Regions from separate parts of the Homo sapiens genome. Here regions 2, 3 and 4 are each linked to region 1. The links come from fine-mapping of genetic effects on gene expression. A gene starts in region 1. Each other region holds a variant in brackets. All regions are shown on one strand. Distances are from middle to middle. Region 1 holds the start of OXTR (oxytocin receptor). Region 2 has its middle 97 kb from the start of RAD18. Region 3 has its middle 6.1 kb from the start of SSUH2. Region 4 has its middle 23 kb from the start of OXTR.

Evidence for each region. PIP is the estimated chance that this variant, and not a neighbour inherited with it, causes the effect.
Region 2: its variant is the best candidate, but not a certain one, in a credible set for the expression of OXTR in spinal cord (GTEx, PIP 0.57).
Region 3: its variant is the best candidate, but not a certain one, in a credible set for the expression of OXTR in whole blood (INTERVAL, PIP 0.88).
Region 4: its variant is the best candidate, but not a certain one, in a credible set for the expression of OXTR in esophagus mucosa (GTEx, PIP 0.60).

The regions. Positions count from the first base shown.
Region 1 is chr3:8,767,457-8,774,985 of GRCh38, reverse strand. It overlaps OXTR (oxytocin receptor), which reads left to right and starts at 5,373. Exons shown (of 4, transcript NM_000916.4): 1 at 5,373-5,755; 2 at 6,395-6,490; 3 at 6,657-7,529. The coding sequence starts at 6,799. RefSeq lists enhancers at 5,209-5,258, 5,906-6,577, 7,250-7,529 and a silencer at 6,869-6,928.
Region 2 is chr3:8,862,975-8,870,503 of GRCh38, reverse strand. No RefSeq gene overlaps it. Among named protein-coding and RNA genes, the nearest start is that of RAD18, 97 kb to the left of the region's middle. RefSeq lists an enhancer at 1-1,154. The variant A/C (reference allele first, on the strand shown) is at 3,388.
Region 3 is chr3:8,647,170-8,654,698 of GRCh38, reverse strand. It overlaps a transcript of SSUH2 not described here. Among named protein-coding and RNA genes, the nearest start is that of SSUH2, 6.1 kb to the right of the region's middle. The variant G/A (reference allele first, on the strand shown) is at 3,272.
Region 4 is chr3:8,788,593-8,796,121 of GRCh38, reverse strand. No RefSeq gene overlaps it. Among named protein-coding and RNA genes, the nearest start is that of OXTR, 23 kb to the right of the region's middle. The variant C/T (reference allele first, on the strand shown) is at 4,421.

The sequences.
Region 1 (7,529 bases):
TATCCCCATCTCACCAGTTAGGGTTCAAAGGAGTTACTTTCCTTGCCTGGCACAGTGACATTCCCCCTACCTTCCAAGATGCAGTTTGTCTGATTAAATTGAAAATATTATGAACTCCATCCAGAAAGACTAATAAGATGGAGGTTGATTGGATCAGACACTATTTTCATGGAGTGGTCCTGGGGTCAGGATTGTCAGCATGGGAATAAAGATTTGATTGTATAGTTCTCTGCTGTTTGTGAAGCACTCTTCATGTGCATTAAGTTTGGTTTATACACACAGCCTCATGTGATCAGCACCTGGGGAAACCAAGTCTCAGAGAAGTTCAGTACCTTAGCCACGCTGACAAAACGTGGTAAAATCCAGATGCTAGCAAGCACTTACTGCTGCAGATTCAGAGCTCTCTCCAATAGGAAAGCACATTTTTCTCTCTTTCTCCACCCTGCATGGAACACAGGAATGAAAACAAAGGCTGGGAAGTCCAAAATCACACAGGCTAGAAGGAATCCGTGCAAGTTCTACCTATAAGCAGTGGCCTCCTGACACAGCATCCTGGCACGGCCTCAGGAACTTCCCAGGTCAGCCCATGTGCCCTGATGTGCCTGCATCCGCACAGAGCTATAAATGTAAGAAGATCAAGTGTGCCAGCAGCAGGCTGATTGCTACAATGTGTTCTCAGCCTTTATGCCTGAGAGCATGTCACTGACCCCCCTCCTGGAGCTAGGAGCCCAAGCAGAGGCTGAGAAGTTATTTGGGGGCAGGCTGGGGAGGCGGTGATGTTAGGGAGGGGGTAGGTTGGATGTGTTTATAGCTCATTTCCACTCTGACAATAGAGCAAAGGCCGCTTGGGCTTGGATCCATGTTGAAATAAATGTGCCAGGGCTGGAAAATTCCCAAGATGCTAAAACTCAGACCCAGTTCCCAGAGGCAGAAGTGGGTACAGGACAGGTCATTCTCTGGGCAGGATACCTTCCCCAGAGGGCCTGGTTCTGCCCATGGAGATGTTTATTTCTTCCCTCCTTTCCCCCTTCCTTTTATCCTTCTGTATTTAACAAATACCTGAAAGGTGCCTATTCTATAGTGACCTAGGCCTTTCGAAGTACAGGTATAGACAATATTGGCCCCACCTTTAAGATGCTTGGATACAAGAAAAAAACAACCCCATTAAAAAGTGGGCAAAGGACGTGAACAGACACTTCTCAAAAGAAGACATTTATGTGGCCAACAAACGTATGAAAGAAAGGTCAACATCACTGATCATTAGAGAAATGCAAATAAAAACCACAATAAGATACCATCTCATGCCAGTCAGAATGGTGATTATTAAGAAGTCAAGAAACAACTGATGCTGTAAAGGATCTGGAGAAATAGGAATGTTTTTACACTATTGGTGGTAATGCAAATTAGTTCAACCATTGTGGAAGATGGAGTGGCAATTCCTCAAAGACCTAGAACCAGAAAGACCATTTTACCCAGCAATCTCATTACTGGGTATATACCCAAAGGAATATAAATCATTCTATTGTAAAGATACCTGCACATGTATGTTCACTGCAGCACTATTCACTATAGCAAAGACATGAAATCAACCCAAATGCCCATCAATGATAGACTGGATAAAGAAAAAAATGTGAGATATATATATATATATCTATATCTATATAATCTATATATAGATATATATAGATTATATAGATATAGATATATATAGATTATATATATATAGATTATATAGATATATATAGATTATATAGATATAGATATATATAGATTATATATATATAGATATATATAGATTATATATATATAGATATATATAGATTATATATATATAGATATATATAGATATATATATATATAGATATATATAGATATATATGCCATGGAATACTATGCAGCCATAAAAAGGAACAAGATCATGTCCTTTGCAGGATGGATGGAGCTGGAAGCCATTAACCTCAGCAAACTAATACAGGAACAGAAAACCAAACACCACATGTTCTGACTTATAAGTGGGAGCTGAATGATGAGAACACAGACACAGGGAGGGGAACAATACACACTGGGGCCTGTCACGGGGGCAGAGGGAGGGAGAGCATCAGGAAAAATAGCTAATATGTGCTAAGCTTAATACCTAGGTGATGGGTTGATAGGTGCAGCAAACCACCATGGCACACATTTACCTATGTAACAAACCTGCACATACTGCACATGAACTCCAGAACTTAAAATAAAAAAAAAAAAAAGATGCCCGGATACTCAGACAGATGAAGACATTTGTAAATCAGGGATTGCTGAATCTCTGTCTGTGATGGTTCATTTTGTGTGTCAGCTTGGCTGGGCCATGGTGCCCAGATATTTGGTCAAATATTATTCGGGATGTTTCTGTGAGGGTATTTTTGGATGAGATTAACATCTGGAACAAAGTAGATCACCCACCATAACGTTGGTGGGCTTATCCAATCAGTTGAAGGTCTATATGGAACAAAAGACTGACCTCCCTGAGCAAGAAGGAATTCCGCAGCAGAGGACCTTTGGACTTGACCTGCAAAATCAGCTCTTCCCTGGGTCTCCAGCCTGTCAGCTCACTCTGAAGATTTTGGACTTGCCAGCCTCCATAACACATGAACCAATTCCTTAAATGAATCTCTTTCTCTACATATATACATCCCAATGGTTCTGTTTCTTTGGAAGACCGAAAGACACCCTGTAATGTCACATCTTTTGTCCATGCCTACAGCATCTCTTGCCTGGATCTCCAAGGCCTTCATAATGCCAGTATCTCCTTTCCCATCTTCCCTGTGGCTACCAGCATTCTCTCACCAAGCACAGATTTGAGTACGTTGTTTTGCTTGCAGTCCTTCCAGGCACCCCACCTTCCCCACCAATGCCTTCTAACCTCAGTCATCTTTACACTAGCACCTTCATGATTTTTGTTATATCAGACTTTCTCTTTGCTGACGTCAAAAGTAAGCAGAACTGAGAACTGAATTTCCTCCCTGTTATTCAGTATCACTCAATATTAAATTCACATTTAACACTATCAGAAAGTATTCCATCCCATATTTTGGGGAATGTTGGGTTACAGAATAAAACCCATTCTCCTTTACATGGCCTTGAAGTTCCTTTAGCATCAATAAGTACAGTTATCTCTTGGTATCCATGGGGGATTGGTTCCGGGAGCCTTCAAGGTACACAAATCCCTGATATAAAATGAAGCAGTATTTGCATATAACACGTGCATATCCTCTCACATACTTTAAGTCATCTCAAGATTACTTGTAACACCTAATGCAATGTCACTCGTCACTGCATTTGTGTGCATTCAGTGTTGTAGGTGGCACATGACAAATTCAATTTTTGCTTTTTGGAACTTTGAGGATTTTTTTTCCTGAATATTTTCAATCCATGATTGTTTGAATCCACTGAACTCACAGATACAGGGATATAGAGGGCCAACTGTATGTATTAAGTGCTGGCAATGTGCTAGGCACCAAGCAATTCATCTTTAGTCCTTCCTCCAAAACGCCAAAGTGATTCCCCTGCACCACTCTCTGAGAAGTATGCCTTTTTTCTTTGCTTCCTGGAGAACTCATTCTGGAGCTCTGAAATCCAGCTACCTCTTTGTAAAACGATCTCCCAAGTATTACCTCAGCCCCCAGCAGTCCTCACTTCTGTAACATCATTTATTGTTGTCACACTGCAAATATTAGGTTGATGCAAAAGTAATTGCAGTTTTTGCCATTATTTTTAATAGCAAAAACCACAATTACTTTTGCACCAATCTAATATGTGTTTTTCTCCCTGGCCGAAGCTCAAAGGTGAAGGAGCATGTCTTATTCATTGTTAGGAGTTTTCAAGGGGACCTCTCTATTTCCTGCCTGGTTTCTGCACACAATGAGAAATAAAACAAAAGACAGGAAATGGGGATCACACTATTACTGTTGTTGTTATTGTTGTTGTTTAGATTAAAACTAAGTTAGAGAATTTACCTTTTGCATGAGACTAAATAGCCCTGTTAGGTGAATCCAGAATTAGGCTGTCTCACGGGCTACGCGAGGACCACACAGGTAGGCAGGCTTCCCTACAAAGGGTAGAAGAGTCTGTCCTTGGTGAAGTGGCTCAGTAAACTTGCTCCCTAGAAAGCAGCTGTCTTCCAGGAGAAAGAAGGGCAGGCTTGGTTCTACAGGCCAGTGTTTTCCTTCTCACATTCACCGGTCAGGGGCTCATAGGGAAAAATCTGCCTTCATCCAGCCGTGGAGTGAGGCAGGGGTGTTTTACCTGCTAGGATTGAACCCTCAGATTGCACAGATTATACAGTTTCAGAAAACCAGAGGGACAGGACCTCAGACATTAGCTATCTTGACCAGTGCTCTCATTTTACATATGAGGAGACTGAGGCCCAAAGAGAAGGGGCTTGCCCAAGGTCACTTCATTCTCACCTGAGTCGTCTGTAACTTTAATCTGTAATTTTCGAGGCCGATAGGTACTATTGACTAATATTGATTAATACTGCCTGCCACCCCTTGGCAATGCTGTCAAGATTCCCAGCCCCATTCTGGAATGATTACTCAGCTAGAACCCTGGGATCCAGGTGCTGTAAGGTTGGCCCCTGGGATATCTCGGCATGGGGCTGTAATTGTGGATTAAGGAAACCCAGTCCTTGGCTAACTCAAGTCTCTCCACATAATAAAAAGACGGAGAAGTGAAATGTCAGGAGGAAATACACATTTAATGCATTTTAAAGAGCCCTGTTTATTTTTGAATCCTGGCCTTTTTTTCTGACTTAATTCTTGGCCACTGTAAATTACTTCAAAAAATGATTTTAGAATAGAGAAGGGGCAGGGAGGCTGAGAAGCTGTCTTTAACATTTTATCTTCCTTTGGCATCATTTAGAATTTTAATTCCGAAGCGCGACAAGGAGGCAGAAACGGCTCTTGGGCGCAGACAAGCAGAATCACTTTAAATGAAGACAGTGTTGTGCTTCAGAATTTCCTCTAAAACTACCGAAAAAATAACGCCTCTCCCAGCACTGCTTAGAATAGAGGCCATTTCTAATTCCTCATTAACGGGAATAGGAACAAAAGTATTCCAAAGCAAAGACTTATTTGAGTTCACTGCTAAAGCCGCTACATCAAGCTGGAGGTGTGGGGGGAGAGAAAAGCCTGAAAATTAACATCATTTTTGGGAAATAATCAGTTTAAATGCTTTTGTAACTTCATCACTATCTACCCGGGGAAGAACATTATTATTCAAGCCTCCTATGTGTCTCGGAGTCAAGAGCTTCTAAACCAAGAAAGGAAGAAACGGGCGGGTTATTGACGAGTTCCCTCCCTCTCGCAGTTTTAAACCACTGCAAAATAAACCCATTTGTTAAGGCTCTGGGACCAACGCTGGGCGAACCAGCTCCGCTCCGGAGGGGTCTGCGCGGCTGGCCTCGCCCGCCCCCTAGCGGACCCGTGCGATAGTGCAGCCTCAGCCCCAGCGCACAGCGCCGCATCCAGACGCTGTCCGCGCGCGCAGCCTGGGAGGCGCTCCTCGCTCGCCTCCTGTACCCATCCAGCGACCAGCCAGGCTGCGGCGAGGGGATTCCAACCGAGGCTCCAGTGAGAGACCTCAGCTTAGCATCACATTAGGTGCAGCCGGCAGGCCATCCCAACTCGGGCCGGGAGCGCACGCGTCACTGGGGCCGTCAGTCGCCGTGCAACTTCCCCGGGGGGAGTCAACTTTAGGTTCGCCTGCGGACTCGGTGCAGGTAGCTGGGTGCTAAGCAGGGGTGGACGGGATGGCTAGGGCCGGTGGAGCCATCGGGACCCGAGTGGAGGTGGTGGGGTGCCTCGCACTCCTTGTTCCTGGAGGAGCTCGGGGTGTTCCGAGAGATTGTAAAGTGACTTCTCGGGATTGAGACTCAGAGTCCTTGATTATCTGGGTCCAAAGCGCAAGTCAGGGGTTCCAGAACTTTCGAGGCTGCCGGGCTGGGGAGGAGCCCCGCGGGAGGTGTCTATGCCAGGGTCTGGGAACAGCGCTTGGGCATCTTGGGCTTTGAGGCAGGGGTTCCCCCAGCAGGGACTGCAGAACCGGGTTTCCACCGAAGCAGGTGCTGTGGAAGTTCAGGGAGTGACGGCCGACCGTCTTAGAAAAGGGGGTTAGACGGGGAAGGACCAGAGCTGGGGTTTCCCAGGCAAGTGGCTATTTGGGGATTTCCGGAGGAAGTACTTGAATTAATGTTTACTAGGAGAGGGGCTGGTTTGGGGGTCCCGCGGCAGGTGGATATGCTGAGGGTCGGAGCCTGGGGCGAGTAGGTAGTTTGGAGATTCCCTCGGGGAGGTGATTTGGTTTTAGATTCCCACTCCCGGAGGAACGTTGCTGATTTTGACCCTCCCTTCTCCCCCAGTGGAAGCCGCTGAACATCCCGAGGAACTGGCACGCTGGGGGCTCTGGGCTTGTGGCCGGTAGAGGATTCCCGCTCATTTGCAGTGGCTCAGAGGAGGTACCTCCAACGGGGATTTCTGGGGTGGCGGCTGAGCAACCCGAGGCCGGCGGTTGTGCCCTGTTGTTTCAGATGAGTTGGGTTCCTGGGAATGGGACAAGCACGCCCTACCCGCGTCGGAAGAGAAACGCGGCGGTCTCCTCACGGCCCTCCCGGTTTGTTTCAGGGTGGACCCAGCAGATCCGTCCGTGGAGTCTCCAGGAGTGGAGCCCCGGGCGCCCCTACACCCTCCGACACGCCGGATCCGGCCCAGCCGCGCCAAGCCGTAAAGGGCTCGAAGGCCGGGGCGCACCGCTGCCGCCAGGGTCATGGAGGGCGCGCTCGCAGCCAACTGGAGCGCCGAGGCAGCCAACGCCAGCGCCGCGCCGCCGGGGGCCGAGGGCAACCGCACCGCCGGACCCCCGCGGCGCAACGAGGCCCTGGCGCGCGTGGAGGTGGCGGTGCTGTGTCTCATCCTGCTCCTGGCGCTGAGCGGGAACGCGTGTGTGCTGCTGGCGCTGCGCACCACACGCCAGAAGCACTCGCGCCTCTTCTTCTTCATGAAGCACCTAAGCATCGCCGACCTGGTGGTGGCAGTGTTTCAGGTGCTGCCGCAGTTGCTGTGGGACATCACCTTCCGCTTCTACGGGCCCGACCTGCTGTGCCGCCTGGTCAAGTACTTGCAGGTGGTGGGCATGTTCGCCTCCACCTACCTGCTGCTGCTCATGTCCCTGGACCGCTGCCTGGCCATCTGCCAGCCGCTGCGCTCGCTGCGCCGCCGCACCGACCGCCTGGCAGTGCTCGCCACGTGGCTCGGCTGCCTGGTGGCCAGCGCGCCGCAGGTGCACATCTTCTCTCTGCGCGAGGTGGCTGACGGCGTCTTCGACTGCTGGGCCGTCTTCATCCAGCCCTGGGGACCCAAGGCCTACATCACATGGATCACGCTAGCTGTCTACATCGTGCCGGTCATCGTGCTCGCTGCCTGCTACGGCCTTATCAGCTTCAAGATCTGGCAGAACTTGCGGCTCAAGACCGCTGCAGCGGCGGCGGCCGAGGCGCC
Region 2 (7,529 bases), 96 kb before region 1:
AATGTCCTGGATGGCCCGGGCTTCATCCACCTCGCTGGCCTGTGCCCTTCCACTCTTTTGCTGTTTTCTGGGCTACAGCCACACAGCCCTTCTTACGGTTGCTAAACATGCTAGGCTTGCTCCTGTTTCAGGGCTTCACTCTCATGCTTCCTCGGTGTGGAATCGTCTTCTCTGGGATCCTCCCACGGCTGGCTGCTTCTCATCATTTGAGAGCTGCACAAATGTCACCTTCTCATTAAAGCCTTCCTGGACCTCTCTTTCTAAAAGACCTCCTCGCTCCTCCACATCAGTATCTGTTCCAGACTCTGTTTTCTTTTCTTCATAATATGCACTGTCCAGAGTTATTTATTTGCCTGCTTGTTTGTTGCTTTTCTTTCCCTACTGGAATGTAAGCCCTGTGGCAGGAGGGACTCTGCCATGTTTGCTACTGTCTGCCAGGCCTAGAATAGTGTCTGGTACACAGTAGGCATTCAAAAACTATTTGTGAAAAGAAAAAACCAAAAGACTAATGGTTGACTGAATGTCTTCTCTCCCTGGAATGTGATGTCTGTGAGATCAGGGACCTTGCTTGGGTGGTGTTCACCTCTGCATTCCAGTGCTCTGAACAACATCTGAGCGTATTAGGTGAGCAGCAAATCAGTGTGGAATGAATCATCTCTGAGCAAAGAGATCTGATCAAGTGAGTCAGGGACCCATTGAAGCAATCTCTTCCTTTCTTCAGTTTCTGCTCTTCTCAGCTGTCCCTGAAATGCTTGGCTCAACCGGATGAAACTAACACCAACTGTTTTATTTATGTGAACTACTCACTTTTTTCTCCAATTCCTATGACTCAATGTATGCATGTGTCTTCACTGAAGTGTACAATAATCTTTATTTTAGGCTTATTGGACACAACACTAAATGCTTTGTCTGGATGAAATTTGTTACTTTTCTAGTGTGGACATGCTCTCCCAACTAACAAATTGTTACAGGGACCATCAATAAGGACCTAAACTATGGGAATAATTTTCTGTTTTCATTTAATACTTATCTTTTGTCTTATTTCTTAGGGCCTAAACTTAATTTTGCTTTGGACCTTTGCTTTGAACCTCTGTGTCAGATGCACAACATCTTTAAATCTTCATTTGAAGATGACTAAGAGACTCAGTAATTAAAAGCTATCACTCCATCTTCCTGTGTACCTTCAAGGGTTTTATTAATAGCTTTCCTTTCTGTTGAACAGATTATCCTGCATCTCTGTGTCTTATTGAAATGCTCAGCACTCACATCCCTTTTCTCGGGAGTTTTTACAACAAGAAGAGCAGAGGTTTTTGTTACGGATACAAAGCTCTGCTTTTGTGAGCATGTTGATTCATTCTCATCAGGGAACAGATGAGGGGTTGTGTGAAGGATTGGGGCAAATTGTTATCACGAAAAAAAAAAGAAGCCTGAAATATTGTTTTACCTTTCTTGACCTAAAGTTCAAGATGTCATAAAATCAACCTTAAAGCTTACCTAGTCCAATGTTATTATTATATAGATGAGGACACTTAGTTCAGGGAGGAAAAGGGGTTCTCCCAAGGCCACACAATTGAAACACAAAAGTCAGAGTCAAACTGAATTCCATCTGGATTTGTGAAGGGCTGATTACCAAAGTACAGTTAAAACTGTTAATGGCTCACCGTGGGATCTTGAGTGAGTCCTCTCACCTTTCCATTTATGTTTTTAAATCTGTAAAATGGGCCTATCTGGAGAAAAGTCCAGATGCGTATTATAGTTATCACCAGATTATTTTTATTAGGTGTTCAATTGCATTTTGGCTGTTTTACAGCAACTGCAATAATATCATCATAATACCTTTACTTTGTTTATTTACATTATAAAATATTTTATTTTTAAGCAGTATATTATCATGGTTTATTATTCATAAGGCACAAAAGAATATACAGCAAAAAGTCTTCCTGCCGCCACAACTTTCCAGCCATTGAGTTCTTGGAGGCAACCAGTTTCTACCAATTCTTAGTGAAGCTTTCTAGAGATGTCTTATGCACATGCAAGAAAATATGCAGTCCTCTTTTTTTTTTTTTTTTTACAGAAATGGTAGCATACTAGATACATTGTTCTGTACTTTGCTTTTCTCTTTTAACATTATATCTTTTTATATATTATTGTTTCCTTTTTGTTTTTAAGGCTGAATAGGATTGTTCTGTATGGTTGCACATTGTTTGAACCAGTTTCCTACTGAGATATTTTTAGATTTCCAATCTTTTTCTATTATAAATATAGCTAAAATATACATATGTATATATATGTATGCACATTGTGTGTGTGTGTGTGTGTGTGTGTGTGTGTGTCTTTCTGTGTGTGTGAATCTGTAAGACAAATTCTTAAAAGTGAACTTAGTGGGCCAAAGATTTTGATAGCGTGGCCACTTTAATGCCTTGGATTTAGATACTGCTTTCAACTTTCCCTTTTTGAATGATTATTCCATAGGCTCTGTCCTTTTGAATCAGAGGCTTAGGATCTGAGATAACAAAAACAGGTCTGAATATGTATCTGCAGAATAAAAACAAGGGACAGAGAGTTCCAAGATCCACAACTTGGAAGGCTCTTCAGAAGAGAATAGGTTTTAAGGTGCTTGGAAGCCTTTGGGCAGCTCATGCTGTCACTGAAGGCAGTCGTTGCTTCTGGAACGCCCACTTCCTGAGCCTCTAGAGGACTGGCAACTGCAGAGGATGCCCTGCAGACCCAAGCTGGACTGTAAAACCCTTGATCTGGGTTGTCTATAAATGCCAAGGGAGGGTATAATAAAATTAGTACAAAAGCAGTAAATATTTGTTGCATGAACGAGTCTATTCTTAGGTACCTTCCTCTTAGAATCTTGGAACATCAGGGCTAGAAGAGTCCGTGGAGACCCTCTAGTCTACCATTTGAGAGGGTGGGAGTGGTGCAGCTCTTACATCTAGTATTGGAACTATTGAACTTTGCCCCTACCACTCTATTTATGTGGAATTGTGTATTTGGTTGTGAGTGCCACATTTTAGGGGGGAATGTAGTTGAAAAGGATCCTGTCCAGCATGTGGGGAATAAATGAAAGACCCATATGTGTTAGGCTTGGGAGGGGAGAGGGAACTTTAGAAAGGATATATACGTGGCACTTGTCTTCATAGCCTCACAGTGAAGAAAATATTCTAAGCACTTCAAGAACTATAACTAGAGCCAGTGGATGGAAGCTATAGGGGTACGGATTCAGCTTAGTATGGAAAATCTTTCTAGTAATCAAAACCACGTGAACTCCTGGTGACGTGGCCACATCCCAGTGGTAGCAGTGTTTAGGCAGAGGCCTCATGGCCACCGTGGAGAGATGAAGTTCAGGGGAAGGCCACGCTGGGGGAGATCAGACCACCT[A/C]TCATCAGATCACCACCAATTCATATTCTGTGCTTGGATTAACATCCAAATGGAGCTTTGCTTTAGTGTACACCTCCTTTATTATACTTTATCAAATATATTTCTTCGTGTTCTTATTACACATGCTCCTTGACTTATGATGGGGCTATGACCCAATAAACCCATGGTAAGTTGAAACTGCGTCTAATACACCTAACCCCTCAAATGTTTTAGCTTAGCCTAGCCTGCGTTGAATGTGCTCAGAACCCTGAGCAGTGCCATTTTGGCAGAAGGTAATCAGGTACAGGGACATTATTGTCTTCGTTTTCTGTAACTGCTCTAACAAATTACCGCAAGCTTAGCGGCTTAAAGCAACACCTATTTATTACGTAGAGCTCCATGAGTTATGAGTCCAACATGAGTCTCACTGTGCTAAAATCGAGGTGTGGGCAGGGCTGCATTCCCTCTGGAGGCTCTAGGGGAGAATCTCATTTCCTTGCTTTTTCTAGCTGCTAGGGGCTGCTCATATCCCTAAGCTGTAGCTCTTCCTTCATCTGCACAGCCAGCAACAACTGGCTGAGTCCTCATATCACCTCTCTCTGACCTCCTCTTCTGCCTCTCTCTTCCACTTTAAGGATCTTGTGATGAAAATGGGGCCACCCAGATAATCTAGGATAACCTTCCTATTCCATCTGCAGCCTTAATTCTTCTTTGCCGTGCAACCTAATGTAATCATAGGTTCTGGGAATTAGGGTGTGGCCCCCCTTTGGGGGTCATCATTCTGCCCACCTTAGTTATGCATTTGGTCTGTTATTTCCCTGCCCAGACACAGGGATATGGGAGCATCATCTGCACTTGGATTGCACCTCTTAGTGGCTCGCCCTTGGCTGTGATCATTTAGGAAACTGGACCTGCCTTTTTGACAGAATTTCTAGGGTCATGTTGGGTTTTTCTTAACCTTGGTCCTCTGTTGCTTCTAGGTTTGCCTTATGAATGTATGTGCTCCGTTTTAGCACCCACTTCTTTGAATATTTGGGTTAGCACAGAACTTCACTGGACCCTGCCCTCACCAGTCCTGAGGGCATGTGCTACCAGTAAGAGGGTGGCACAAGTGGGCTGTGCTGTGTGAGCTCCCATTAATCAACACAGAAAAAATGAAACAGAACTACACACACACACACACACACACACACATGCACACACATGCACACACGCACACACACACATGCGCACACACACACACACACGTGCACGCACACACATACACATGTACACACACATATACACACACAGGCATTTCTGTATGATCATTACACATACAGACCATAAAATCACAGCTACCAAAAAAATTGTTTATGTGTTTTGCTGGACTCTCCTTTCAACACCCCCTCCTGCCCCAGGTGTGGGTTTTGGGGTACTGTGGTGCAACCCCAGACATGGCCATTCTTCTAAATATTTCAGGCTGGGTGCGGTGGCTCATGTCTGTAATCTCAGCACTTTGGGAGGCTGAGGTGGGCAGATCACTTGAGGCCAGGAATTCAAGACCAGCCTGGCTAACATGGTGAAACCCCGTCTGTACTAAAAATGCAAAAATTAGCCAGTCGTGGTGGTGTGAGCCTGTAATCTCAGCTACTGGGGAGGCTGAGGCAGGAGAACTGCTTGAACCCGGGAGGCAGAGGTTGCAGTGAGCCAAGATTGCTCCACTGCACTCCAGCCTGGGTGACAGCCAGACTGTGTCTCGAAAAATAAAAATAAATTAAAAAAATAAACATTTCTACTCTGACAAAATAAAGTCTAAAATGTGGACATTGAAAATTAAGGCCAAAACAAAAGAAAAGAGACAAAGGAAAATCAGTAACTAGGCACTTAAACTGTGACTGAAGTTTTAGGTTTCCCTGTAGCTAAGGCAAACTGGGAGCTGGGTAGGAATACCTCGTTCTCACTGGCTAACTCTCCGCTGAGGTTTCGGTTTTAAGTTTCCAGTTTTCTGTAGACATTACGTATGTAGTATCTCATTCTAGTTAAAGCCATGGGATTTGATGGTCACAAATGAGTGGTTCTGTCCCTGGGCTCTGTCTTTCAAGCCTGTCCCCTGTCACAGAACAGCTAATATTGGAAAGTGCCCCCTGCGGGAGGAATAGGTGTGCCCACATTCTTACCTCCACCCTCCGGTCACACGCTGCAGGTCCTGACTCTGGCCTCGCTGGTGGTAGCCCCTCCTGACCCTCCTGTCAGCTGCTCACCCTCCCAAGGCAAGGGTTTCATCCCTGAGGTCCCTTTTATGCCCCTCTTTTCGGAAAGGATGAACTTGAGTTGGAGTGACATGGCAGTCATTTGGATTCAGTTTCCAGTTTCACTTCTCCAATCTCCTAATTGCTGCTTGGTTGTGGGCCGGGGCTTTTAGAATTGATTGGGCAACATGGCGTGGAATTGCCTCCGTGTATGTGCCATCCACTCTGTGGTTCAGGGAGCTCCTGTGAGTTCCTTAAGGGAACTAATTACCAGCTAGCACTTCTTATCGTTAGCGTTTTCTCCCATCTGCCAGCCAAACTCACTTCTTTTACACCTTAGATAATGTAGTGTGTTTTAAAATCCAGCCCAGATGTCCCACTTTCTAACCATTTCAAACTGATGAGGAAGCCAAGTGTCACAGCCAGGAATGGGAAAGTCAGGACTTTTTGGGCAGAGCCGCCTCCCCCTGCCCTCCTTCGTGAATACCCCCAGCCATCACCCCCAGCCCCTCTGCCACCCTCTATATCAGTCCCAGTTCTTCCAGAGGTAGATGCCAAGATGGAATTAGACTGGCCAGAGATTTATTGAGAGAACATCTGTGTCGGACAAAAAGGAGAGGGAGCAGGAAAAGGTGGGGAGAGACTTCCAACCACTTTTGCACCCCTGTGGAGAGAGAGGGGGAAGGGAGAGTCATACATAGGAGGACCCTCGGGCGGTGGTGCAGCACCGAGACAGCCTTGGCCAGACGGATGGGGAGTCTGGCAGTTACAGGGGCCCTTCCTTTCCTAGGTGCAAATTGCCTGTCCAGCAGCTTTATCTTCAGATGGGCTGGCACTGTCACTTCACACCTTATTGCTTCTCTGTTATCACCAACCAAACCCCCACAGAAGGGGAGGCCAAAACCATGTGGGAACAGATGCTACATCCTAACAGCAAGCCTGTTCTATATGTGTTTTGCTGGACTCTCCTTTCAACACCCTCTCCTGCCCCAGGGGTGGGTTTGGGGGTACTATGGTGCAACCCCAGATATGGCCATTCTTCTAAATATTTCAGGCCAGGCATGGTGCAGTCATTCCCCAGTCCTCTCCCATGGGCCTGTAGCTCTGCTCAGCCAGGGAACTGACAGTAGAATAGAAAGAGCCCTGGGTGTGGACAGAGTGAGAGCAGGGTTTGGACTCTAGCTCTGCCATTTGGTCCAGCACATTCATCCGGGGCTCCCACAGGCTGTGCCCTTTTCTAACACTAGGAATTCAAGGACAGCTCAAGCACAGCCCTGGCCCATGAGGAGCTCAGTCTGGAAGGGAGACCAGCAGCCTTGCAACAAACACAAGGAGAGCAATGTGATGAGGACACTGATGGACACACTACGTGTTCTTGCTGTGTATGCTCACTATGATGTGAGCACATCCTGGTATCTCTTGTCTATGTTAAGTATAAGTGGGGCCCCTAAATCAAGAAAAATGTTTTCAGTGCCTGGCACCAAAGCAGAGGGAGGCAGCTGCTTCAGAACAAAAGGGCACACCATCATGGGGGTCTTCCCCCCTTAGACTTGCCCTTGAAGCCTGAAGAGACCTAACATGGTCCCCGTGGACAGCCTCTTGGGAGCCTCCACTGGCCCCTGTGCACAATCAGAGGTCTCGAGAGGAGAATGACTGCTCCTCACATCTTGGCCCTGCTCTCCTGGCCTGGGGAGTCTCTGCTTTTCTTGTTCTGATCTGGGGCAGGAAGGGAAAGAACAAGGAAGGGGCCCTTCCTCTGATAGAGGAGGACCCTGGCCCATGTGGGCGTCTGAGGGAGGTGGACCACTGGACTGTGTGGGCGTCTGAGGGAGGTGGAAGGCAGCCCCCGCGTCCATTCTGTCCATGTTGGTAGCGCGGCTGTCCTAAGCCCAGAAATGAGATCTTTGCTCTACTTCCTCCGCAAGGGGTTGG
Region 3 (7,529 bases), 120 kb after region 1:
GTGGCCGCACACTGAGACCTTGGGGAGGACACCCACTGAGACATTGAGATATTTATATTTTCCCTGGAGCTCCGGCATCTGTCTGTAAAGTGAGGTGCTACGGTTCTATTCCTACTAATTTACCCTATGGAAACACACACACATGTGTAGACATAAGTACAAGGCTATCTTTAAACCACAGCAGTGTAACTGCAGGGAAGTAGGAGACAATTTGGGTGTCTATTGAGAGGAGAATGGTTAAATACATCATGATACATTCCTACAATGGGAAACTACGAAGTGTTAGAAATAAAGGAAACTGAGATGACGTGGGTGATTCTACAAACATGATGTTGAGTGAAAGAAGCCAGATTCTTTTGTTGAAAATTCATCTGTTGAAGCCCTACCCCCTAATGTGATAGTATTTGGAGATGGAGTCTTTAGGACGTAATTAGGTTTAGATGAGGTCGTGAGGGTGGGGTCCCCAGGATGGAATTAGTGCCTTTCTAAGAGACAGAAGAAAGCTTGCTCTCTCTCTTTCTCCTCTCCACATGAGGGCATAGCAAGAAGGCAGCCATCTACAAGCTAGGATGAGAGCCCTCACCAGAACCCAACCATGCTGGCACCCTGATCTTGGAATTCCAGCCATCCAAATGGTGAGAAAATACATTTCTGTCATTTAAGCCACCAGTCTGTTGTCATGGCAGCCTGAGCTGACTAATACAAGTGCCTGCTGTTTGAGTCCAAATGTATCAAGTTCAACAGGCAAAACTGAGCCATGCTGTTACAGGCAGGGGAACGGTTCCCACTGGGTGGGGTGGAAGGGTCGGGAGGTAGAGAGTGAGTACCGGAAAGTGGCCTAAAGTGGCTTCAGAATCTGGTCATGTTCTGTTCCCGATCTGAGTTTTGGTCACACGGGTACATTTACTTTGTCAAAATGCATCCAGTTGTGTTTTTAAGATTTGTGCTTTTTAAAGGATTTGTGTTATAATTCAGTAAAATGTATACAAAGAAAAATAATCTCATTCAAAAATTATCAGTAAAAACAAAAGTCTTGTGAACAATATTTTAGTTATTTCTATGTTATTCGTATTCAGCCCAGTGCCTGAATTTAAACCGGATTGTGTGCTAAATGTAAAATCTGCTACAGCAACAACAATAAAATGAACAAGGTAAAACTGTGTATGCTGTTGACACAGAAAGATATCCATATTGTATTTTTTGTTTCTTCTTAACAAAAAGGATGAGCAATATTTACAGCATGATTTCATTTACGCTTTTTAAAAATTCTAAGTGTATGCACACTTATAAGCAAATTTACATGTAAATTGACATGTGGACATTGGAGGTGGGGTGACCATTAGTTTTTAGTTTTTAATCTTTTGAATCTTTGATTTTTTAAGGATTAGGATATTTCTTTTATAAATATAAAAAGTAATGGTGAAGGTAAATAAAAGAGGACAATGAAAGTGAGTTTGGAGCAGATGACATCTGCGGCTCCTGCCTCTTGCTCTGAGGTCTGTGATTAACATTGACCTTCTTCATGTCCAGCCAGATGGATGACCAGGTTTGAGTTGGATGACATACATCTCCATGTGATTCTCAATTTAGATCCAAAAAGGTGTCCATTCTTGTGGCTATCATTTCGGTTTTTGGTTGTGGATTCTCTTTCTCCAAGTGGATGTGGAGCTGGCTCTGGAAGCCAGGTACAATGGCAGAGCTTCAGGGCATTTAGGTAGCCGATCCCCAGGACAAAGAGGAGCCCAGTCTCCTCCCCACTCCCAGGGAGATGGCCTGAGGGAAAGGGGGAGTCAGTCACATGCTTATATTCCAAAATAATAGACCTGTGGAGAGTGGCCTGAAGACACAGAGGAGAGAACAGTTGTTTCTGGTCAGGGAAATCATGAAAGGCTTCCTAGAGGAGGGGGCATCTGAGATGGTCCTTGGAGCATGAGTAGAAGTTTGCCAGGGAGAAAATGGTAGAAGGAGAATGTTTCAAATGGGGGAAACTGTATACATAAAACTCGATATAGGTATATCAGGGGAAAACATGTGAGGGCTAAGGCTGGAAAGGCTGTTTGGAGGCTGGCTGAAGATTTGGACTTTATCCTAGGGTAATAAGGAGCCATAAAAGATTTGAAGCAAGACACTTAATCAGATCTAAGTAGGCAGGAAAAGCTTTCCACCCTTCCCCTTTCTTTCCTCTCTCTTATCCTCCCTTCTTGGGAGGGGGACTCTGAGCAGCAGGAATAGAAGACAGTCTGGGTAGACATGATAAGCATTGAGGTTATGCCATGGAAGGCAGCTGCTATTAGTGACACAAAGGTTTGCTTGACTTGTGGATGTCTGATTGGGAAAAATCTGGAGATGGTAAAGCCATTTCTGTTACTGGTCTATAAGGCTACTCCTGATCACAGAGCACCTGAGACCCTGGGACTGGGGGAGATTGTGGTACAGGTGCAGAGGGAGGAAGATCAGAGAGATCCCGAGGAGGGCTCTGTGTGCTTGGATCAAGGACTCAACAGGGAAGGTGGGAGAGTTCTGTCGCACTTTGGACACTGTGTGTCATCCTGATCATGTGATTGTTTGATTTTCCTTCTGGGGATGGATGGTTGACCTCCACCGTTTCCTGGTCATCACTGTGCATGCGGGACACGCTGTAGAACAGCTCACACTGGCTGGCACTGCTAAGCAGGTGCGGAGGGGAGTCAGAGACCCCCGGATGGAGGGGTGAGTGAAAGCCTGCCTGAGGCAGTCGCCACGGAGATGGAGGGAGGAGAGATTGGCAGGAGGTGTGTGTAGTGGGAAGAGAAGAGACAGAAGTTGAGGATAATTAGGGGTTTCCTGTATGTGTGGCTGGGCATGATGGTGAAGAGGCAGAGGAGGGGAGGAGCTGGCATGGGGAGAAAGAGAATTAGGGTGGAGCCATGGGAACACATCCATCCTTGCTGAGGGCTGTCTCTCCAGTTGACATTAGATGGGAGGCCTAACATCAGGGGATGGAGGAAAAAATGATTTCTGCCACTTTTGGCTTCATGGGAGACTCTGCAGTGGGGCTATGTCTGATGTTACTTATCGCTCTGGTACCCATCAAGGTCTCTGCAAGGAATCAAAGCTCTTTAATAACATGTGAAAAAAATACACGATTCCTCATTCTGCTCCTGCTCCCCATTTTTGTGTGGCCCCAGGAGTCACTTCACCTCTGGGGACCTCAGGGCAACATTCAAAGTGTATTTGTCATGGAGGAAGCCCTGGGCCATGGTCTGCTACTCACTGCCATGTGAGCCTGAAC[G/A]AGTCCTTTCCTTTCTCTTGGCCTCAGTTTCCCCATGTGCACAGTGAAGAAGTAGAACAAAAAGAATTCTGAGGTCCCAACAAGTGCTCACCGTCAGCAATGATGGCTTCCCTCACTTGCCTCCCCGCTTGCTGAGATAGCCGAGAGATGCAATGGGCTGGATCCCGAAGCATTTATGACAGAAACCCCTCTGCAAACACAAGGACGGGAAGTTAGTGTTGTCCTGTGGCCTGGGAAGGCTGGTGGTGCCTTGCAAAGCAAATTGAATTTGTGTTTGAAAATTTCAGTGACCAAACAGACTGGCCTTTTAAAATTCCAAATTGGCTTTGTAGATAAATGGATCAGATTAGTAGGAAGGAAGGGAGAAACGGAGGGACCGTGCAAAATGCGTGCAATTGCTGGCAGGCAGCCTTCTGCCTTATGAGATTAGCATCTCTGCCTTTTGCTGGAAATGAGCCACTCTGTTCTCCTTGCCTGCCAGGAGCCACGATTTAAAACCTCTTCCATTTTCTAGCCCAGTGAGGACAGCAGCCGGAACCACAGAAACTGGTTTTAGTTGGTTTAATCTGAAGCCCCCAGGCTGGGCATCTGCACTGACCCACAAAAGAGCTCCCTGGGAAATGTCTTCCAGAGTCAAGGCCACGGATGGAGCAGGAGCTGTCACTGGTCAGTTTTCCAACCACGGGGATGGAGCGTCCTGTAGTCCCAGCTTCCAGGGAAGCATCCTTCATTAAGGCTTGAGCCACAGGGTCAAACTGAACTCCTTCCTGCTGTTCCTATAATGTGGCACTCAGACTGGATCCCTGTTTTTGAAGAAGTAAATGTCTAGAAACAGGGACAAACTGGTATTTAAAAATTACTAGTGGCCTTCTTTTTTCTTCTATCAGTTTCCCCACAGTTGGAACAAAGCTTATCTTTGGAGAAAACTGTTTAGAAGTCCAGGACAATGGGAAGATAAAGTCCCTGCATAAGAATATATTTATTTATTCATTCATTCATCACATGTCTATAGAGCATCTATTATTTTCCAGGCTCTGTTCACAGTGCTAAGTATACAGCAGGGAACTAAACAGACACAAATATGCTTTTTGGGATTTTTATCTTGGTAGCCTACATCCAGATTATGACAGGTGTTGAACAAAACACATAGTAAGTTAGTTAATGTGTTGGATAGAAGTAAGTGCCATGAAGAAAAACAAAAGCAGGAAAGAGGGTCTGAGACTGGAGATTTGGTGGTGGCGGCAGGGTGTTCAATTTTAAATAGGGGCCAGGGACAGCCTCCCTGGGAGAGTGACATTTGAGCAAAGGCCTGAAGGTGGTGAGGGAACAGTTTGTGTAGAGATCTGTAGGGGAATTCCAGGTCTCCAGTACAGCAAGTGCAAAGGCCCTGAGGTGGGAATGTGCTTGGTGTGACCCAGGAACGATGAGGAGGCTGGTGGGGCTGGAGGAAAGGGTTGAAGGGAAGCAGGCAGAGGCCATATTGGTAGGGAGGGTGCAGGGGGTCGCTCGCAGAGCACGGCAAGGACTGGGCTTTTAGTCCAAGTGATTTTGCAGCCAGGAAGGGTGTTGAGCAGAGGAGGGGCTGTCTCCTGACTTACAGGTGTAGAGGGATCAGTCTGAGTTCTGAATTGAGCATGGGCTTTGTCAGGGCGAGGGCAACAGATAGGAGGCCCATGAGGAAGTGACTGCAGCAATCCAGGTGAGGGGGGCAGGGGGCTCAGGCACGAGTGGGAGCAAGGAAGCAGACTGGGAGAGGACCCAGGCAGATATGACTTGCTGACATTGAATGCGGGTATGAGGAAAAGGGGGAGTGAAAGCAGGTGGAGACCAGAAGTTCAGTGCTGAACACACAGAGAGAGCTCGAGGTGTCTGTTAGACAACTGAGGGGAGATGTCCCAGCCAGATAGAGGAGTCAGGAGTTCAGAGGAGAGGTCAAAGCAGAGGCAGAAATTGGGAATCATGAGTGCGTGGACGACCATAACACTGAAGGAGGTCACCAAGGGAGTGAGCACGGATGGACGGGCACACAATGGGTCCAGACACCCTGATATTTAGAGATCAGGGGAGAGGAGCCACCATCCCACCTTGCCCGCTCCTGGGACCTGCTCTGGGAATGAGGAGAAATGCAATTCCTGCCCTCTTCATGAACTGCAGGAGCCAGGAGATGTGGTAAGATGTGGCGAAAGTTCCTGTTGCAGGCAGCGTTCTTGGGAAGAAGACTTTGAGGAGGAGGACCTTTGTGTGTGGGAAGTTAGCTGGGGGTGCTCTTGGGATCAAGTCCTGTGAGGAAGCAAAGGCAGCAGGATTTCACAGAGGGAGGAGTTGAGTTGCGCTGCAGTCAGGGCAAAGGTCTTGCCCATTGTTGGAGGGTAGGGGCTCAGAAGTAGGGCAGCCCTTCAGAGCTGCCCTGAATGAAGGCCCAGGGTGAGTCAGGGAAGGGCTTGGCCAGGTGCTGGAGATGAGGTTCTCATCCTGAGGGGACCTGGGAGGGCAGCCCAGCACTCACTAAAGCACCCAGGGGAAGGTGACCAGGCCACCATTAGACGGTGGGGGCAGGCCAGAGTCTCTTAAGAAAGTTGATGAGTTGGGTTCCTGGAGCATCAGGATTGGTAGAGTCCTGGAGCTGCGATGTATCCAGGGTCAAGGTTAAGTTTTGTGTTGTGTTTAATCATTTCCCCACCTGTGTTTTGGGAGCCTTCCAAGAGGGGCCTCAGCTACATCAAGGGAATGAGGGAAGGGGCACTGTGGCCTGGAGGAGGTGATAGAGGGAAGCCCAGGGCAGCAGCAGACCAGAGTCACAGAAGGGAGTAGTGCTTTGGTGAGCACTCATTGGAAGCTTCTAGAAAGACTTCAGGATGGGGGGGCACCAGCTAAAGTGTGGCTTTGCTGTCGCTGAGGAGACAAAGGTTCAGGATTGGCTAGGAAAAGGAAAGGTGGAAGGTGACCTTCCTGAAGGCCTCTGGCCTGCGGGCATCGTAGTTTCTCAGCTTTCCTCCATTGCTTTCTGTTCAGCTGATTGGGTAGCCAGACTTACACGGGCCAAGCCACTAAGTAGCCAGGTCAGTGAAAACCATGCCACGCTCCTTCCCCTAGCTTCTTACAACGACACATAACAACACACAGAATTGTTTGTCATCTACATCAGGGCCTTGGTGCCAACTTGCTCTCATTCCTGTTCTGCCGCACCAGAGCTGTGTGACCTTGGGTAAGTCACTCAACCTCTCTAAGCCCTTGTTGTCTCGTCTATAAGGAGAACAATATCTATCTTACGGAGTTGTTGTGAAGGTTTAACTGAGAAAGCATCTGTGAACGCATCTCCCTTCCTATGTGGTATTTGGGGGGCATCAAGAAGATCTCAGTCCCTGTTTTCTGTCTGTGCAGTTAGAGGTCCACGACTTGGGCCTGGAGGGATATGCCAGTTTCCCTGGCTCCCAGAGAGAGGAGGGTGCTTGGGCATGGTGTTTCGAGAACCTCCTACTTGGACAAGTTTCTTATTTGTGTCAAGCCCATTCTCCTCCACTCCATACTTGATTCCTGCCATGGGCACCACTGGTCTCCATCCACCCAGCCTGCAGATAAGCCAACAACAATGTTATCTGTGGCTGCCAGGCCCTTTGGGGCAGAACTCCTTTGTTGGCAGTCTTGGCTCCTGTGGGGGTTCTGGGTGGCTCTGGGTTCGGTTGGGTTGTGAGGGCCCGAGGCAGGGCCTGGTTCCTGGTGGATGTGCAGGGAGCATTCACTGGATGAATGAGAGTGAGGGCTCTGTAGATGGTGGGGTGAGACCTTCGTCCAGCAGGAGCTGAGCAATAGCCGGCTTCTCTGAGACAAAAAGAAATAACCAGACCAGGCACTGTTCAAGGTTCTGCCCCCTGGGAGTACTTCTCCTCACCACGGTCCTTCAGGGATGTTCTGGAAAGGGGCTGCAGTGCTGCCATGTCCACTTTAGGACTTTGAACTCAGTCTACCCTGACTCTGAAGCCACAGACTGTGATGTTCTACTATTGCTCACACCCCACTTTGTTTAATCACCAAGCTTCTGCGTTAATATTCTTCCAAAGAGCTCAGTCCAAAGGCAAGAAACTCTTCTCACTAGAAAGTTTCTTTGTTCAGCCGAAAATGACCTCCATTCCGGACCAGCTCTCCGCATGCCTGCGCATGGATAGGACAGGTGTCCTGAGATTCTGTTCTGCTGCTGCCTTCCCACATGCCCCTTTAAACACTTGAAGACAGTTATTGAACCTTGCTTCTAGGTTTTTCC
Region 4 (7,529 bases), 21 kb before region 1:
CCACGCTGGCTACTGGCCAGCAGATGAACTCACCTTGTTCTTCACTGAGAAAATAGAGCTGATCCAGACAGAAACTGTCCCCTCCCCTATCCAATCCACCTGCATCTGTGCCTGTGCTCTGTGCCTGCCCGCCTAGTCTTGCTCCTATCAGAGGCCACCCCTCACCTGAGTTCTGGGTCCTGTTCCCTTCCTCCTCAAGGCCTTCTCTCCTGCAGTCACCCCACTCTGCTGGAGCATCCTAAGAATATTCAAACATGCTCTAGAACCTTCCATCTTGAGAAAGAGCCACAAAGGAGACTCAACCGACCACTCTCTCTGTCCCCATGGAAAGCATTCTCCTCCCATGCTCTCACACTATCTCATTCTGCTGGTTTTCTTCCCACCTGGCTGCGTGCGTCTATGCACTCTCCTCGGCTCCCTCTCTGCTACCTGCCCCCTAAATGATGAGGTGCCAGGGCCCTGGCCTGAACCTCCCTCTCTACCAACCTTCTCTTCATGGATGTAAGTGTTTTCTTTCTGCTCATAACATCTTGAGTGCACACCTTCCCTGGAGTTTCAGACCATTCACCTGGTGAACTCTATGAAATCTCCGCTCAGATGTTTAATAGGCCTCTGAAAATACACATGTCAAAAATATGACCCTCTGTTTTTCTGCCTTCCTGCCGCCAGTCAAACCTGTGCTTCCTCATCTCAGTGAGTGACATTGGGCAATCACTATTCATAGGGTTGCTCAGGCCAGAGTCTTGGAAATAATCTCTGATTCCTCCCATGTGTTCCTCCACCACATCCCATTGATTGGCAAGTTGTATTGGTTCAACTTCAAAGACATCTGCAGTCAGTCCATTCCTGCCATGCCCCCTTCACCCATCACCATCCAAGTCACCACCATCTCTCGCCGGTGTCCTGCTCCCAGCCTTGCCCTTTTTACCATCGTTTTCCCACCCAGCAGCCAGAGACATCTGTTAAAAATATAAGCCGGCTCCTGGAAGCTGGCTGCTGTGGAAGGCAGCTTGGGTGAGAGCACTGAATGATGAGAGGCCACAAGCAGGGGCACCGAAGTGCATTCCCCCAATGAAAAGCTGACACTGACACCCCAGACCTGTGAGTGAGTCCATTGTGGATCCTGCACTCCTGTCGACCCTCCCCAGCTGACAACTGGTGGAGCTGAGATGAACCGTCCCACTGGGATCTGCTTGGATCCCTGACCCAGGGAGTCATGAACAACCAAATGGCTGCTGCTTCAGGCCACAGAGAAAAGTGTACAATAGATCCTGACCCTTTGCTCGTTATCCCTCATGAGTGATTTCCTGATGCACTTGTGTTAAAATCCTAATTCCATGCCATGCCTTGTAGGCCTTTGATAGTTCCTGCCTGCTGCTTTCCTCTTTTGCTCCATGCTGTGGTCATACAGCTGCTTTCTGTTCCTCGGTCTTGCCGCCTGCGTGCCTATCTCAGGGCCTTTGAACCTCCCCTTCTCTCAGCCTTTCTTGCAGCTCTTGGCATGTCTGGATTCTTTTTATTTTTCAAGACCCCACTCAGAGGCCATTTCTTCGAGAGGCTTTCTCTGATCACCCTAAACACTCAGAAACATCACCCTGTCTATTTTCTTCATAACACTTCCTACAGTCTGGAGCAATCTTATCTGTAGAATGCATGTGTTATCTGTCTCTCCCCTGCTCTCTTTGAGAGCAGGATTTGGTCTGTCTTGCACCTGCATCTTTGGGGGTCAACAGCTTGACATAATGTAGACCTCTAACAAACTGCAATAAACGTGTTATTGGGAAACAACTTAATAGGCAAATGATTATGTGTATTAGGGCAGCGCTTAAACTTCAGTAAGAATGTAGATTACCTGACAACCTCATTAAAATACAGATTCTGATTCTGTAATTCTGGGAGCTCTAGGGTGGGCCTGAGACTCTGCATTGCTCACAAGCACCCAAGTGATGCCAGTGCAGCTGGCCCATGGAGTACACTTTGAGCAAGCAAGGCAAGGCTGTTCGACCTTTGTATACCCACGGTGCTATTTAACAGTTGCACAAACGTATTTGTTTCAGCAGGAAGGGAAAATAACGACAGAATCCTTATCCTCTGTTCAAGTATCATTTCCAGGTATTTGCAATTGGTACCTTTATGACATCCAGGGATGTCTTTGGGGGCCACCTGTTTTTTTTTTAATTTTTAATTTTTATTTATTTATTTATTTGAGATGGAGTCTCGCTCTGTCGCCCAGGCTGGAGTGCAGTGGCGTGATCTCGGCTCACTGCAAGCTCCACCTCCCAGGTTCACGCCATTCTCCTGCCTCAGCCTCCGGAGTAGTTGGGACTATGGGCGCCTGCCACCACGCCCGGCTAATTTTTTTGTAGTAGAGACGGGATTTTACCGTGTTAGCCAGGATGGTCTCGATCTCCTGACTTCATGATTTGCCCGCCTCAGTCTCCCATAGTGCTGGGATTACAGGCGTCAGCCACCGCGCTCGGCCGGGGCCACCTGTTTTTTAAGTGTGTTGCATCTGTCTTTAAAAGCTAAGGCTGCTTATCCGAATTCAATCTCTGACTGCTTTCTGTGCCTTCAGGGATGGCTGCAGCTGCCCACTGAGTGGCCTGGAGCTTGCCGTGACACAGGGAAGGGACCATGCCTGCCTGAGGATCTGACTGATGTCCAGGGTTGATGTTAGCCTGGCGTGGGGGATCCCAGTCACTGATGGCCTGCAGTCATGTTCATGATTAGCTAATGTCTGTAAGACTTTGAGTCACCACTCACGGTGATTCAGAGTCCATTGTGTCCATCGGGTTTCCTCAAGCAGCGTTGCCATCTGGCCTCTGTCTGGGGATAATTTCTCTGTCCCTTGGTGCCAGAATTAGCCTGTCTCTTCCCTATAGGCAAGCAGAGTGATGCCCAGTGCATCCCAGGCATCGTGCCTTCCTTCGCCTCCTGGGTTGGACACCGTGACTTCGGCCGTCTCTCTGCCTCTAGCCTTAGCGTTCATGCATGCTCACTAGAACTGGAGGGGATGGCTGGCTCCCCAAATGAGGCCTCAGAAACAGGAGCTCAGGGTCATAGAGACGCTGAGAAGGCTGTCTTTGCTAGGGGCATGTTCTAGGGCTTGTTATCCCCAAATGCAACTCTGACACTCCCTCAACCAGCTCAGGTCTTGAGCTGGAAAATTTCTCATCAATTGTCTCCCCACATCCTTCCAACAGTGATGGCAAGATGGCCTTCCTGACACAGGAAGATGTAGCCAAGAGAGGTGGGTGGCTTGCTGAGGGCCCTGCAGCTGCTGAGTGGCTGAGCCAAGACTGCAGGGCATTGTCTGACCCACACTGCAGTCCAAAGCTGCTGTGGCTGCTTTATGGCAGATACCATCACAGAGGGTCCCTTAGGGAAGAAGGAACTGAGGCTCTTCTGCCGATCCTGGGCTTACTCAGGGGTTGGGGGAGATGGAGAGGGAAAGGCCAGCAGGATCAGGGAGGAGGCTTCTTTCTGGGGGAAGCACAGGATGCATTCTGTTGTGAGAGTTGCTCCTGCCCAGGTCAGCATTTTTCTTGGAGTGCTCTGTGGCCAGCCTCCCTAGACATTCTCCCATGGCATGGCCTTATACAGAGGTTCTGATTCGCACACTAGGAAATCCCACCTTTTCCCCAGTCTCTCTCCAAATTCACCTCAATGCTCCTTTCTGTTGGGTAAGCAGTTTCTGCATCTGTAGGTCTTGCTCACTTGAAATTATATGTAGATGTTAAATTTATAGCATCTCTACACGAATGCCTTGATCAGACCATTTCTGAGAGAGGCTGCCTTGGTCACTGTGGAAGGTGGAAGGTGAAGAAGGAGGGATGTTGTTCCTGAGTTGTCATTCCCCTAAGGGCAAGGCTGATGAAGGCAGAAGAAAAGGGGCAATGTTCAGAGAAAATCAGGAGGTTGGCAGCTGGGCAAGGGCCCAACCCATGCCTCAAACAGAATGAGGAGCAAAGTAAAGTGAACATTTATTTATAGAGTTCTTACCACTTGCCCGGCACCATGCTGAGCACCTAGAATTTATTATTTCATCAATTTCTCAAAATGATACAGTGCAGAGGCTCAGAGAAGCTGGGAGACTTGGTCTCACAGCCAGTAAGTCTCAGAGCTGTGGTTCCATCTACTCAAAGCCCCACTGCCTTCATGGGAAGGAAGCCAAGGGGCAGAGTGAGGGAGGCCCAGTGATGAGAATAGGGCCTGAGGAGCCAGTTCTGGAGCTTTGGGTATAGATCTCAACCTTTGTTAGTGCCTGGCCCTCATGCTTTGCTGAATGGAAGACAGACTCTTTCTTTCTTCCTTCCTTCCTCCCTTCCATTCCTTCATTCATTCAACTAACATATTGCCTACATGTTTACCAGTCCAGACAGTGCTGAAATGTATAAAGCAAAATGCTGTAGTTCCCTCA[C/T]CTAACACCAGTCTAGCTGTTGGAGGTAACTCACCACTGTTAACAATGTGATATCTTCTCTATGATCATATAAGTAAATACCATTCGAAAACATTTTTTGTTTTTTTTTAAATTAAATTAAATTAAATTTTTAGAGATGGAGTCTTGCTCTGTCGCCCAGGCTGGAGTGCAATGGCACAATCTCGGCTCACTGCAACCTCTGCCTCCCAGGTTCAAGCGATTCTCCTGCCTCAGCCTCCCGAGAAGCCAGGACTAGAGGCGCACGCCACCACGCCTGGCTAACTTTTGTATTTTTAGTAGAGATGGAGTTTCACCATGTTGGCCAGGCTGGTCTTGAACTCCTGACTCAGGTGATCCACCTGCTTTGGCCTTCCATAGTGTTGGGATTACCGGTGTGAGCCACCATGCCCAGCTGATTTTTTGTTTTTGAAAAAAAAAAAAAAAAAGCCATACCGTACTCTCTATGCCATTTTTCAATGTGCTTTTCCCCATCACTATGGAGCATTTCCCATTCAGCCATAAGAATCCCTAAGGGGTAAACTCCTAAGGGGCAAGGCACAGCTGGATTGTCTGAGAGTCCTGGGAAAATGTGGAGAAAGTATCAAGGAAGCAAGGTTGAGGGGCACCAGGACTAGTTTCTATCCACCCAGGAAGGTGCCAGGACATCCTTGCATTTGGCAGTATCCCTGCCAGGCAAGTGCTGGTGGAGAGTCACCCTGTGGTCTCACCTTGGGGTTCTTCTTCCCCAGTTGTCACACCCAATTCCCTTCCTCTTCACCATTAGTCCAAAGCGTCATTCTCTCTCTAGCTGTGGTAGCTCTTAGCTGGTTACTCTGCTTACACTCTTGACCTGTGTGTAGATTGCAAATCATCCTAATTTTTTTTTTCACTATTGCCTGTCTTCTCATCCTTTGCAAGCATTTTTCAGCTGTCACGAAAAGGATGGAATGTATATCCCTACCCCTCAATTTTGTGTTTGATCATGTGACTTGTGCAAGAATTTGTGGCTCACTTTGACCAATGTAACAAGGCATATCCTTAAAATATTTGTTTTTCCTTAACCTCTGAAGCTTCTGCTGTCACCAGAAGAAGGACATGTCTACACACTAGCCTGCTGGTCCAAGGAAAAGGATCCAGCCAGGCTCAGCTTAGAGCAGTCCACCCTCAGCTAATTCACACATGCATAAGCTAAATAAATGCTTATTATTGCAGTGGTTCTCCAAGAATGGACTACAGACACCTTTCAAGGGGTCTGTGAGGTCAAAACTATTTTTAAACAATATAAATACATATAGGTCTTTTTCATAATGTTGACAAATACACTGATATTTAAAAAGCAATTGTGAACTGGATAAAAAAGATCCAACTACATGTTGTTTTCAAGAGACACACTTTAGATTCAAAGATAAAAGGTTGAAGGGAAAATGATGTAAAAAATATATCATGCAAATAGCAACCATGAGAAAGCCAGAGTGGCTATATTAATATCAGACAAATATATATATTTTTCAGAGATAAGGTTTACCTCTGTCATCCAGGCTGGAGTACAGTGGCATGATCATAGCTTACTGCAGCCTCTAACTCCTGGGCTCAAGCATTCCTCCACTTCAGTCTCCCGTAGCTGGGACTATAGGTATTTGACACCATGCCTGGTTAATTTTTTCATTTTTAAAGAAATGGGGCCTTGCTGTGTTGCCCTGGATGGTCTTGAATGCCTGGCCTCAAGAGATCTTTTTGCTTCAGCCTCCTGAGTTGCTAGGATTATAAGTGTAAGCCACTGCTCCTGGCTAACACAAATAGATTTTAAAACAAAAAATTATTAGAGATAGTGAGAGACATTTATAATGATGAAAGCGTAAATTCATCAGGAAAATATAACGATTATAAACATATATGCATCTAATAACAAAGCCCCAAAATAAATGAAACAAATTGAAGAGACAAATAGACAATTCAACAATTATAGTTGATGACTTTAATATCCCAGTTTGAACAACTAGGCAGAAGATCAATAAAGAGACAGAAGACTTGAACAACATTATAAACAAACTAGACCTAATAGGTATCTATAGAACACTCTACCCACCAGCAGAAGAATACACATTCTTCTCAAATGCACATGGAGCATTCTCCAAGATAGATCGTATGTTAGGTCATAAAACAAGTCTCAATAACTTTAAAAGGATGGAAATGACACAAAGTGTGTTCTGTGGACATAAGAGAGTAAAATTAGAAATCAATAGAGAAGAACATTTGGAAAATTCACAAATATGTGGAAACTTAAGAATATACTCCTAAATAGCCAATGGACCAAATAAAGAAATCCTAAAGATGAATCAAAAATACTTTGAAATGAACGAAAATGAAGACAAAAACATGTCATAATTTATGGGATGCAGACAAAGCAGTACTTAGAGGAAAATTTATAGTTGTAAATATGTATATTATAAAGAAAGACCTCAAATCAATAACATGTCCTTCCACCTTAAGATACTAGAAAAAGAAGAGTAAACTAAAACCAAGCAAGCTAAATAAAGGAAATAATAAAGATTAGAGTAGAAATTTATAAAATAGGGAATAAAATTCATAGAGAAAAATAAACAGAACCAAAAGTTAGGTTACTTGAAAAGATCAACAAAATTGACAAAACTTTAATTCGATTGACCAAGTTGAAAAGAAAGAGAAGTCTCAAATTATTAAAATCAGGAATAAAAGACTTCACAGACCTACTGACAGAAATTAAAAGGATCATAAGGGAATATGATGAACAACTGTATGACAATTAAGTTCAAAAAGTTAGATGAAATGAAAAAATTTCTAGAAGGACAAAAACTACCAAAACTGACTTAGAAGAAATAGAACATCTGAATAGACCTATAACAAATAAAGATATTAAATTAGTAAAAAAAATTTTAGTCAAAACTACTCACAAGGAGCTCAGTCCCAGAGGGCTTAACTGGTGAACATTTAAAGAATAATTAATATTGATTTTCCACAAACTTTTCCAAAAATAGAAGAGGAAAGAATACTTCCCAACAAATTCTATGAGGCCAACATTACTCTGATACTCAAACCAGACAAAGGTATCATATTAGAAGAAAATTACAGA